3 linked regions of the Homo sapiens genome follow. The protein of the gene in region 1 purifies or fractionates together with the protein of each later gene. This does not show direct contact. Each region holds a gene or a part of one and is shown in the gene's direction. Other genes may lie near its edges. The genes, in order: DQX1, PEAK1 and MYO5C.

The links.
Region 2: the proteins of DQX1 (region 1) and PEAK1 purify together in Homo sapiens (affinity purification with mass spectrometry; 2 studies listed by BioGRID and IntAct, with this or other methods). This does not show direct contact.
Region 3: the proteins of DQX1 (region 1) and MYO5C purify together in Homo sapiens (affinity purification with mass spectrometry; 2 studies listed by BioGRID and IntAct, with this or other methods). This does not show direct contact.

What each region holds. Positions count from the first base shown.
Region 1 is NC_000002.12:74,519,570-74,523,321, reverse strand, and holds part of DQX1 (ATP-dependent RNA helicase homolog DQX1), read left to right. Parts: coding exon 1-12; intron 13-103; coding exon 104-203; intron 204-291; coding exon of another isoform or gene 292-307; coding exon 308-466; intron 467-550; coding exon 551-742; intron 743-3,287; coding exon 3,288-3,407; intron 3,408-3,575; coding exon 3,576-3,752. UniProt on the Homo sapiens protein: Might be involved in RNA metabolism; it is missing helicase motif III and may not have helicase activity.
Region 2 is NC_000015.10:77,133,489-77,137,240, reverse strand, and holds part of PEAK1 (inactive tyrosine-protein kinase PEAK1), read left to right. Parts: intron 1-3,490; coding exon 3,491-3,752. UniProt on the Homo sapiens protein: Probable catalytically inactive kinase. Scaffolding protein that regulates the cytoskeleton to control cell spreading and migration by modulating focal adhesion dynamics. Acts as a scaffold for mediating EGFR signaling.
Region 3 is NC_000015.10:52,294,191-52,297,942, reverse strand, and holds the start of MYO5C (unconventional myosin-Vc), read left to right. Parts: upstream 1-2,138; 5' UTR 2,139-2,306; coding exon 2,307-2,333; intron 2,334-2,731; exon of another isoform or gene 2,732-3,059; intron 3,060-3,752. UniProt on the Homo sapiens protein: May be involved in transferrin trafficking. Likely to power actin-based membrane trafficking in many physiologically crucial tissues.

The sequences.
Region 1 (3,752 bases):
GAGCTCCGAAGTGTGAGTGAGAGAGAGAGATAGCGGTGGGGTAGTAAAGACAGAAATGGCCCACTCTGATCTGTCTTGGCCTTGGTTGGGGGACGGGCAACAGGTTTACAATCCTAGGATCCGAGCAGAATTCCAAGTGTTGAGGCCAATCAGCAAGTGTCAGGCAGAGGCAAGACGATTGCGAGCAAGAGGGTTCCCACCAGGTAAGAGCCTTTGCCCTCACTGAAATAAAAAACCCAAGAGTCACCAACATGCAAGCCCTGAGAAATCTACAGTGGTCTTCTTTCCCAGGTCTTTTTCCCCTCAGGATCCTGCCTCTGCCTGTATCCTAAGTCCTTCTTAGAACTAGAAGCTCCACCATTGCCACAACCCAGGGTGTGTGAGGAGAATCTGAGCTCCCTGGTGTTACTACTAAAAAGGAGACAGATTGCAGAGCCAGGGGAGTGTCACTTCCTGGACCAGCCTGGTGAGCACCTCTCCTGCCCAAGCACTGCCATCTGACCACCCAGTTCTGAAACTTCATATCCTGTAAGCCCTGTTTCCTCACCAGCTCCAGAAGCACTGATGCAAGCCCTGGAAGATTTAGACTATCTGGCAGCCCTGGATGATGATGGGGACCTGTCAGATCTGGGTGTCATACTATCAGAATTCCCTCTGGCCCCTGAGCTGGCCAAAGCCCTGCTGGCCTCATGCGAGTTTGACTGTGTGGACGAGATGCTCACCCTGGCTGCCATGCTCACAGGTATAAATCGCTGCTGTAAATCCATAGCTCTTGAAACCACTTCAGCCCTTCCTCTTGGGTTTTGGTGCTCCTGAGGCTAGCCCTTTCCTCTCTGCTCCAGTTGCCACCCCTCACAATGCCTAAAGAACCAGGCTTAGTCACCCATCTCCCTCTTGTCTCTTTAGCCTTTTTTCTCTGCTGGTTCTTGCCCTCAGCATGCTTAAATCTCTCCTAATCTGTTATTGCTAAAACTCACACACCCCTCTTCCTCAACCCTATCCTCCCCTTCAGCTATGCAGCATGATTTCTATCCTGTTCTAACTGGTGTATTGCTCACCCACTGCACTCCAGCTTCAGGTCTACCATGCCAGTGAAACAGCTTTCAACTCACCAGTGACCTTCCAGGTACCTAATCCAGTGGATACTTTTGAACCCTTATTCATGACCTTCTTTTGACACTTGAGATTGCTGACCGCTCCACCTTGAAACTGCCTCCTCCCTAGGCCTCTGTAACGCTGCTCCTCATGGATTTCATCCTACGTCTCTGGTCATCCCCTTTATCTTTTCCTTGAGCTCTTTGTCCTCTTCTTATCCATTGTAAATTGGTCCTCAGGGTTCTATTCTTGCCTCTTTTGTCTTCTATTCCCTGAACTCTCTGAGCAAGTTTATCCACACCCATGGTTTGAAGTGCTACCTTTAGCCTTAAAATTTCCAAACCTTGTGCCGTGTATCTCTCACCCAATACCATTCTTCGAATCTGAGAGACAGAGAGAGAGCAAGGGAGAGACGCATGGGGAGAGGGGGAGAGAGGGAGAGGGAAAGAGGGGGAGAGAGGGAGAGGGAAAGAGGGGGAGAGGGGGAGAGAGGGAGAGGGAAAGAGAGGGAGAGAGAGAGAGCATACTCCAACTCCTGATGAACGTTTCTTTTTTTCTTTTTCTTTTTTTTTTTTTTCAGACAAAGTCTCACTCTGTCACCCAGGCTGGAGTGCAATGGCATGATCTCAGCTCACTGCAACCTCTGTCTGCCTGGTTCAAGCAATTCTCATGCCTCAGCCTCCCAAGTAGCTGGGACTACAGGCACGCACCACCATGCCCAGCTGATTCTTGTATTTTTAGTAGAGACGGGTTTTTGCCATGTTGGCCAAGCTGGTCTCAAAGTCCTGACCTCAGGTGATCCATCCACCTCAGCCTCCCAAACTGCTGGGATTACAGGCCTGAGCCTCGGCACCCAGCCCCTGATGGACATTTCTACCAGAATAGTTAACAGTACCTCAGCTCAGAACTGAACTCAAATGCTCTATTAAACCACTCCCTCACCACCATCACCACAAAATCTTTTCCTCTCTCTAGAGTCTTAGATTCAGATAATACTATTATCTCTGCTGCTCTGCTACCATCACTCTAGACCAGTCTTTCTCCAGGTTATTTCACTTTTATCTCCTAAATGTAAATATATATATAAATATATTCATCTGTCCTTCTCCATATTCACTTCCAGTGAATACGGTAGGTAGGATCTGCCAATGGTAGGTCCTCCTCATTGCTCAGCTGGTTTTCCTCAGTAGCCTCCTAACTAGTAATGTGAACTTTTTCAGACACATGGACTCTCTTACTTAAAAACTCTTCTTCAGCCAGGCGTGGTGGCTTGTGCCTGTAATCTCAGCACTTTGGGAGGCTGAGATGGGAGGATCACATGAGGTCAGGAGTTTGAGACCAGCCTGGGCAACATAGGAGAGACCCTGTCTCTACAAAAACAAAAAATTAGCCAGGTGTGGTGGCATATGCCTGTAGTCTCAGCTACTGAAGAGACTGAGGTAGGAGGATCATTTAAGCCTGGGAGGTTGAGGCTGCAACGGGCCATGATCACGCCACTTCACTCCAGCCTGGGCAAGAGAGTGAGACCCTGTCTCAAATAAACAAACAACAACAACAAAAAAAACCCCACAACTCTTCCTCTACAGCTACTCTTTACCTTAAAGACAGTTCCTTTCCTCAGTACTCCAGCCTCTCATGACCTTACCTATACCTACCTCTCCAGCTTTATCTCCTGCCATTCTGCCACGTCATTTCATTCCCTCCACCCATACCAGATGGCTTGCAGTTCCCCAAATATGCTATATTATTAACTTACGTGCCATGCTGTTGCCACAGTCTAAAACATACTCCCTGCCCCGTCTCCACTCGGCTAATTCCTACTCAAATTTCAAATACTAGCCCAAGGGTCCTCATCGTTTTCTCTTACATCACTCACATCCTCACCACCTAAAGCCTGGATTAGGTATCCTCCTCTTTGTTTCCACAGTACCATATACAAACACCTATCATGCTTATCAAGTCTGCTTACCTGTTGGTCTCTCCCACCAGACTTGAAGCTCCTTGATGGCAGAGACTGTATTTCATTTACTTATCCTCAATGTTTAATAAAGTGCATAGCACCTAGAAGTTATCTATGTCTTTTGAATAAAGTTCCCAAAGGGACACTTCTGCCTTTTCAGCATTCTACCTGTACTACTATCCCTTCCCATTTCCCAAATGGCAGATTCTACCTTCCACTCTTCTGCCTCCAGCTGCCCCTGGGTTTACCCGTCCTCCACTCAGTGCAGAAGAAGCTGCCCTGCGTCGGGCCCTGGAACACACGGATGGTGACCACAGTTCTCTGATCCAGGTGTATGAAGCCTTTATACAAAGTGAGTTCTGCATCCTTTTATAGAATCCCAGATTTTCCAAAGAGGGGAAATTTTATGCAGCCAGCTGACAGATCTCTATGCTCAGAAAGAGGAGGCCCTTTGGCTAAGGGTTGGGTTATTTCAGGGGTCTCAAGGACTTTAGTTTAGCTGGTCCCTTTCCTCTCCTAGGTGGAGCAGATGAGGCTTGGTGCCAGGCTCGAGGTCTGAATTGGGCAGCATTGTGCCAAGCCCATAAACTTCGGGGAGAACTCCTAGAACTCATGCAACGAATTGAACTTCCCTTGTCCCTACCAGCCTTTGGCTCTGAGCAGAATCGCAGAGACCTTCAGAAAGCACTGGTGTCAG
Region 2 (3,752 bases), on another chromosome or scaffold:
ATTTCCCTTTCACACTGCCCTAGCAGAGGTTCTCCATGAGGGCCCGACCCCTGCAGCCAACTTCTGCCTCAGCATCCAGGTGTTTTCATACATCCTCTGAAACCTAGGCAGAGGTTCCCAAACCCCAGTTCTTGACCTCTGTGCACTCACAGGCTCAACGCCACATGGAAGCTGCCAAGGCTTGGGGCTTGCACCCTCTGAAGCCACAGCCTGAGCTCTACAGTGGCCCCTTTCAGCCATGGCTGGAGTGGTTAAGATACAGGGCACCAAGTCCCTAGGCTGCACACAGCAAGGGGACCCTGGGCCTGGCCCACGAAACTACTTTTTTCTCCTAGGCCTTCGGGCCTCTGATGGGAGGGTCTGCCGTGAAGACCGTTGACATGCCCTGGAGAAATATTTCCCATTGTCTTGGGGATTAACCTTCAGCTCCTCGTTACTTATGCAAGTTTCTGCAAATTTCTGCAACCAGCTTGAATTTCTCTTCAGAAAAATGGTATTTTATTTTCTATCACATTGACAGGCTGCAAATTTTCTGATTTTTATTTTATTTTTATTTTTATTTATTTATTTTTTTGGAGACGGGGTCTCACTCTGTCACCAATACTGGAGTACAGTGGCATGATCCCGGCTCACTGCAACCTCCACCTCCGAGGTTCAAGCGATTCTCCTGGCTCACCCTCCTGAGTAGCTGGGACTACAGGTGTCTGCCACCACACCTGGCTAATTTTTGTATTTTTAGTAGAGACAGGGTTTCACCATGTTGGCCAGGCTGGTCTCAAACTCCTGACCTCAAGTGATCCACCTGCCTCAGCCTCTCAAAGTGCTGGGATTACAGGCATGAGCCACTGCGCCAAACCAAATTTTCTGAACTTTTATGCTCTGCTTCCCTTATAAAACTGAATGCCTTTAACAGCACCTAGGTCACCTCTTGAATGCTTTGCTGCTTAGAAAATTCTTCTGCCAGATACCCTAAGTCTTCTCTCTCAAGTTCAAAGTTCCACAAATCTCTAGGGCAGGGCCAAATTGCTCCAGTCTCTTTGCTAAAACATAACAAGAGTTACCTTTGCTCCAGTTCACAACGAGTTCCTTATCTCCATCTGAGACCACCTCAGCCTGGACCTTATTGTTCATATCACTATCAGCACTTTTGTCAAAGCCATTCAACAAGTCTCCAGGAAGCTGCAAACTTTTCCACATTTCCCTGTCTTCTTCTGAGCCCTCCACACTGTTCTAACCTCTGCCTGCTACCTAGTTCCAAAGTTGCTTCCACATTTTCGGGTATCTTTTCAGCAACACCCCACTCTACTGGTACCAATTTACTGTATTAGTCCATTTTCACACTGCTGATAAAGACATACACGAGACCAGGCAATTTACAAAAGAAAGAGATTTATTGGACTTAACAGTTCCACATGGCTGGGGAGGCCTCACAATCATGGCAGAGAGCAAGGAGGAGCAAGTCACATCGTATGTGGATGGCAGCAGGCAAAGAGAGAGAACGTGTGCAGGGGAACTCCTCTTTTTAAAACCCTCAGATCTCATGAGACTTATTCTCTATCATGAGAACAGTACGGGAAAGACCTGTGCTGACTCAGTTACCTCCCACTGGGTCCCTCCCACAACATGTGGGAATTCAAGATGAGATTTGGGTGGGGACACAGCCAAACCATATCAAGTAATTAACATTGTGTTATAATTGCCCACAGTATTCAGTACAGTACCATGTTGTACAGGTTTGTAGCCTATAAGCAGTGGGCTATACCATATGGCCTAGGTGTGTAGTAGGCTGTACCATCTAGGTTCGTGTAAGTACACTCTATGATTTTTGCGTAATTATGAGATTGCCTAACTCTCTCAGAACTTATCCCTGTCATAAGCAACACTTACTATTACAATCCCAGATTATATTGGTGCTTACCGTTGACATGCTGCAAGGACGTGATTTTAACAAAACAAACCACCACCCCTATTCATTGTCATCCTCAGCACCATCCAGCACCTTCTACTCTATATGAACAATAGTAGGAGAATGTATGAGTTTCCTAGGACTGCTGTAAAAAAGTACCACAAATGGGTGGCTTAGAACAACACAAATATATTCTCTCACAGTTATGGAGGCTAGGAGTCTGAAATCAAGGTGTCAGCAGGACTGTGTTCCCTCTGAGACAGTGGGTAGATTCCTTTCTTGCCTTTGTCTGGCATCTGGTAGTGGCCATCAATGCTTGGTATTCCTTAGTCTGCACCTGTGTCACTCCAGACTCTGCCTCCAATGTCATGTAGTGTTTTCCCTCTCTGTCCCTGTCTTTACATGGTGTTTTTTCTTCTTATAAGGACATCAGCCATATTGGATTAGGGCCCGTCCTAATGACCTCATCTTAACTATTAAATCTACAGACTTCCAACAGGTCACATTCATAGGTACCAGGGGTTAGCACTTCAACATACCTTTTTGGGGGATATAATTCAACCCATAACAGAGCCTTATAACTCTGAGATCTTGAGTAGAGGCCTCATTTTAATAACAGAACTAATTTTTAATAGCCTTTATAGAAGTTTCATGTATATTTTTCTGTCTTTAAAAAATAATGTGTTCTCTCTGTTATACAATAAGCCCTGAAGGTATATTCAAACACACATGTGTTTTATCTTTTTCTAATCATAAATGCTGGAAACTAAGCACAGATGAATGGTTCTCTAACTAGGGCTTATAAAAGATGTTGAAAGATAGTATCTCTCAAATCACAATGTATATGCCCACCAAAATAAAAGAGAATCACATAAGAGTTTGGGAATTCGTGTTCAGAACAGAAGTTGACTGCTCATATACACTGTTCCCCTTACCACAATCACAGGAATCTTTTACGTAGACCAGTTTAAGCAATGTCAGAATCCATCTCTATAGTAAAATAAATAGCATGGCTTTTGAAATTGTATTCATGTGTTGGAAAATGTTATATGCATGACAAATGCTATATATAATACAATGTAACTTTGGAATAAAAAGAACAGAATAGTATCTTCTGAGCCCCTGTCTAATGGTCACATTGCTAGTTTCAATTCTGTTTGTAATAAAGCTCCCAAGTATTTTCTTTATCCACAATGCTATCATCTCTACTCTGTCACAATCCAAGTATATTCGAGTGTCTGTCATCCCTTAATATTCTGGTGTGGTGAATATATAGCACTCTGAAGGGTGGGACTGGAGAATCTGGTTTCCTTTTTGAAAACAAAACTCATCACCCAAACCAGTGCCCTGTTCCTAGACAAGGCCAAGACATTATGCATATTTGTCGTTCCCACCAAGGCTTGGATACTTCAATGTTTAGGTATTTGTTCTTTGGTTGTTCTCTTTTCCCATTTTGAACTAAAGAGTTGACTTATTCTTACATTCCCATGGCTACCTCACTCATTTCTGCTCAAGTTTCAGTTATAAAATTAGATTGAAAACTTTACTTACTCTTTTCTTTTTATTGCTTTAAAAACAATACAGGGCAATCTAGAGCAGCCATGATACCTCCCAAGCAGCCACGACAGCCCAAGGGAGCTGTGGACGATGCCATCGCCTTTGGAGGGAAAACAGACCAAGAAGCACCCAATGCTTCCCAACCTACACCACCCCCACTGCCAAAGAAGATGATCATAAGAGCCAATACAGAGCCAATCTCCAAGGACCTCCAAAAATCCATGGAAAGTAGTCTTTGTGTCATGGCTAATCCCACCTATGATATCGACCCCAACTGGGATGCCAGCAG
Region 3 (3,752 bases), on another chromosome or scaffold:
AAATTAAATTTACCATGATCCTCTCTTTGTGGCATTTATCATTATTGATCCATGCCAGGCCTCTCTTTATATTTTTTGATCCCCTTTTTGAAATCTCCGATTCCATTTCTCTCCCTCATAGGTATCCACTCTTGCATATTTAATGAATGACTTTGTAATTTATCCTCCTTACCTCTATTCACACATACTTGTACCCATGAACAATATTCAGTATTGCAGTTTTTGTGAGTTTTTAAATATTAAAGACTTGGGCTAGACATCTATTCAACATTGTTTTTTATTTCTGAGTCAAGTAGATCATGTCTATTCCTACTAACAGCTGTAGAGTTTTACATGTATATACTATTTCTTTTTTTATTTTTCTCTGCTGTCTGCCATGTATATACTATTTTATTTATTCCCCTATTGATATTTAGATGCTTCCAACTCTTTGATAAATAACTATGTTGTGATGAACATCTACTTAACTGTCTCTTTGGGTGACTGTGAGAATTTTTCTGCCTACATTTATTTTCATAACTATTCTCAAATTGCTCTCCAGGATGGCAGTATATTCCCACCAGTTATGTAAGCAAAAAAAGTTTTTATTTTTTTTATTTATTTTTTTTTTTTTTTTGAGACGGAGTCTCGCTCTGTCGCCCAGGCTGGAGTGCAGTGGCGCAATCTCGGCTCACTGCAGGCTCCGCCCCCTGGGGTTCACGCCATTCTCCTGCCTCAGCCTCCCGAGTAGCTGGGACTACAGGCGCCCGCCACCTCGCCCGGCTAATTTTTTGTATTTTTAGTAGAGACGGGGTTTCACCGTGTTAGCCAGGATGGTCTCGATCTCCTGACCTCGTGATCCGCCCGCCTCGGCCTCCCAAAGTGCTGGGATTACAGGCGTGAGCCACCGCGCCCGGCCAAGTTTTTATTTTCTCACATCCTAGGCAGTATCTGAGATTGTCTAACCTAAATGTTTTTGCCAATATGATGGGTAAAAAGCAATATCTCATTGTTGTTTTCATTTGTATTTATCTGATTACTGCTAAAGTTGACATCTCCTTGTATGCTAACAAGCCATTTAAGTGTCCCCATCTGTGAATTGCCTATTAATTTTTGTCAGTTTTAAAAATTGGATTTCTTTTCTTTAACCGATTAACAATTCTTCTATATGGAAACTACTATAACCCAACATTTTAAAGATATTATCCCTCTTTTATTCCTAATAATTTCCCGGTTTTAAGTTTTAATCGTGAATCCATCTGGAGCTTATTTTTGGATGCAGTGTTTGCCACGGATCTGCTTTTATTGTTTTTCCATATAACGGGCCCATCTAATAAATATTATTTTATTTCCCTATCTGGTCCTTAAGGCTACCGTATAATGTAGGGCCCTGCTGGGGGGCTCCAGCATGTTCCATTACTCACGTATCCGTTCTCACGCAAGTGTCACACTGTTTTAATGACTACTGCTTTGTTATGTCCCTAAATATATGGCAGGACAAATCTCTCCTCTTTGAGAATTGTCTTAGTTATACAGGGCTTTTATTCTATATGAAATATAGAATCATTGTACAATTCTCCAAAAGTTCTGTAGGATTCTGACGCCAATATATTAGGCATATATATTGATTTGGGTAGAAGTGACACCTTGACCATATTAAATATTCCCAGCCAGGAAAATGGCATGTCTCCCGTTTACCTGGGCCTTCTTTTAAGCTCTTTAAGAGAATTTTAAACATTTTCTCCACAAAGGCCAAGGGCATTTTTGCGAGTGTAATCTCTGGATACTTTATATTTTCACTAATATTGTAAATATCTTGTATTGCATAGACAATGCTCATATAAAGGACCATTACTTATTTTTGTATTTGATTTTGAATACGATGACCTTGCTGGACTCTTAACACATTTCTTTGTGTTCAGTACGTTGATTCCCTTGGGTCTTCCATTTAAATGGTCGTATCCTCTGCTCTTTGAGGAGCTAACACTCGGGCCGGGCAGCCTCCGGATGCATCTGTTCCTGCCTGGCAGCGCGCCCCGGGCCCCAACCTTCTCCACCCGCGCTCCCGCCAGGTGCAGCCGCCCGGCCCCGGCCAATGGCAGCGCCGACTAGCCGGGCCAAGCTTGGAGGGACCAATCCCGCCGCTGCCCCCTCCCCTCGCCGCCAACTCGGGAACGGGAACAGGAGGCCGTTGGAAAACTTTGGGCAAGATGGCCCGGCGGTGATTTCCGCGGCGGTCTCTCCTGCGCCCGGCCTCTGCGGCGCAGGCCCAGCCCCCGAGCCTCGCACGTTCGGCAGCCCCGGCCTGGCCCCGGCCCCTCCTGCCCATGGCGGTGGCCGAGCTGTACACGCAGGTAGGAGGGTCCGCTGGGCTCCTGGGAGCGCTGTGGGGGAGCCGGCCCTGCTAACGCTGACTCGACCTGGCGCCCGGGCCACACCTGCCACACCTGCGCACCTGACACGGCAGGGCGGGCGGGCGCGCGCTGGGGGCCGCGGAGGCGCCGCGGAGGGGCCACGGGGACCGGGGACACGAGCGAGCGTCGCCCCTCCAGGGCCCCGGCGTGCTCCGTCCCTGCCCGCGGGTAAGCCCCCTCCTGGCTCCGCTGCGCCTGGGTGCCCTGTGGGTGGGAAGACCCTGTGGGAGGGGCCGCCCCCTCCGCCGCTCCGGCCTCGGGGCCTAGAATCCCCAGTGCCCAGGGGTCGCGCGTGCGTCCCCATCTCCCGGGACTGGAGCGCCTCGGTCCCTTCCTACCACACCACGGGTGGAATCAGAGTTGCCCATGCGGACGTAGGAAGCTGAGACGCCGGCCAGTCTCCTGGCCCCTCCTGGGACCCCCTTGAACGAGCTGGCATAGAAGCTTATGGCCGCAGTGTTCGGGCTGCTTTCTAGAATTCTGTGTCTTCAAAGTGCGTGAACGTGCATGTAGGCTCATCAGAAGCTGAAGCAGCCTGGGTCACAGGCTTGAGGGCACTGCAGTGGCACCAAGCGCTTGGGGAGCCCAGGGGCCACGAGGTGCAGTCGTAGGCTCTTTGCCTAACATCTGTACTGTTAGCAACAGTACAAACACCACAGTTTCTAAAGCGCCTTTCATATACCCTGACTCTGGGAAACACTAGAGCATTCCTCAGAAGCTTCCTTTCTGCTGGCTGGGGCTCCACCTCTTACCTCGGAAGGGCAGCGTTCCCACATATGTCCCAAACCCTCTGAGATGGGCTTGGGTAATTATTTGGATAAAGAGTGTGACAGTGTTAGCACTTTTGAAAAAAAAAATCCATTTGAATAGCCATAAAGCCTGATCCTCCTATACACCAGTTGGGGAAATCTAGAGACCTCAGTATTCAGACGAGTGGAACTAGAATCCATCCATTTCCCCGGACACATGCTCTAGCTTTCTACTTTAAAAGATGCTTTTGCTGTAGATAGAAAAGATAGTTATTTAAAAAATCATGTTTCAATGGTTTAAGCAAACGTTTTTCTTCTACTTTGATTACTTAGTAACAGTCCGGACACAAAGCAACCGAACTGTAGTTTCTCCTCTATTGCATCTCCATTAACTGGAGTTCTAAATGGACAGTGTTTGAATTGCCCTAGTTTTGTTCTAGAATATTTTCACCAGTGAGACTGTGAGCCCTCAGACAGCCAACAGCGCTTCTTCAGCCTTCAGTTTACTGGAAGTGAAAGAAAAGTCTTGGACTAGTCTTCGACGATACTTTGGAGGACAGAGAAAAATGCTGCTGCTGAACCTATTTGAGGTGACAGTATTTCCAGAAGC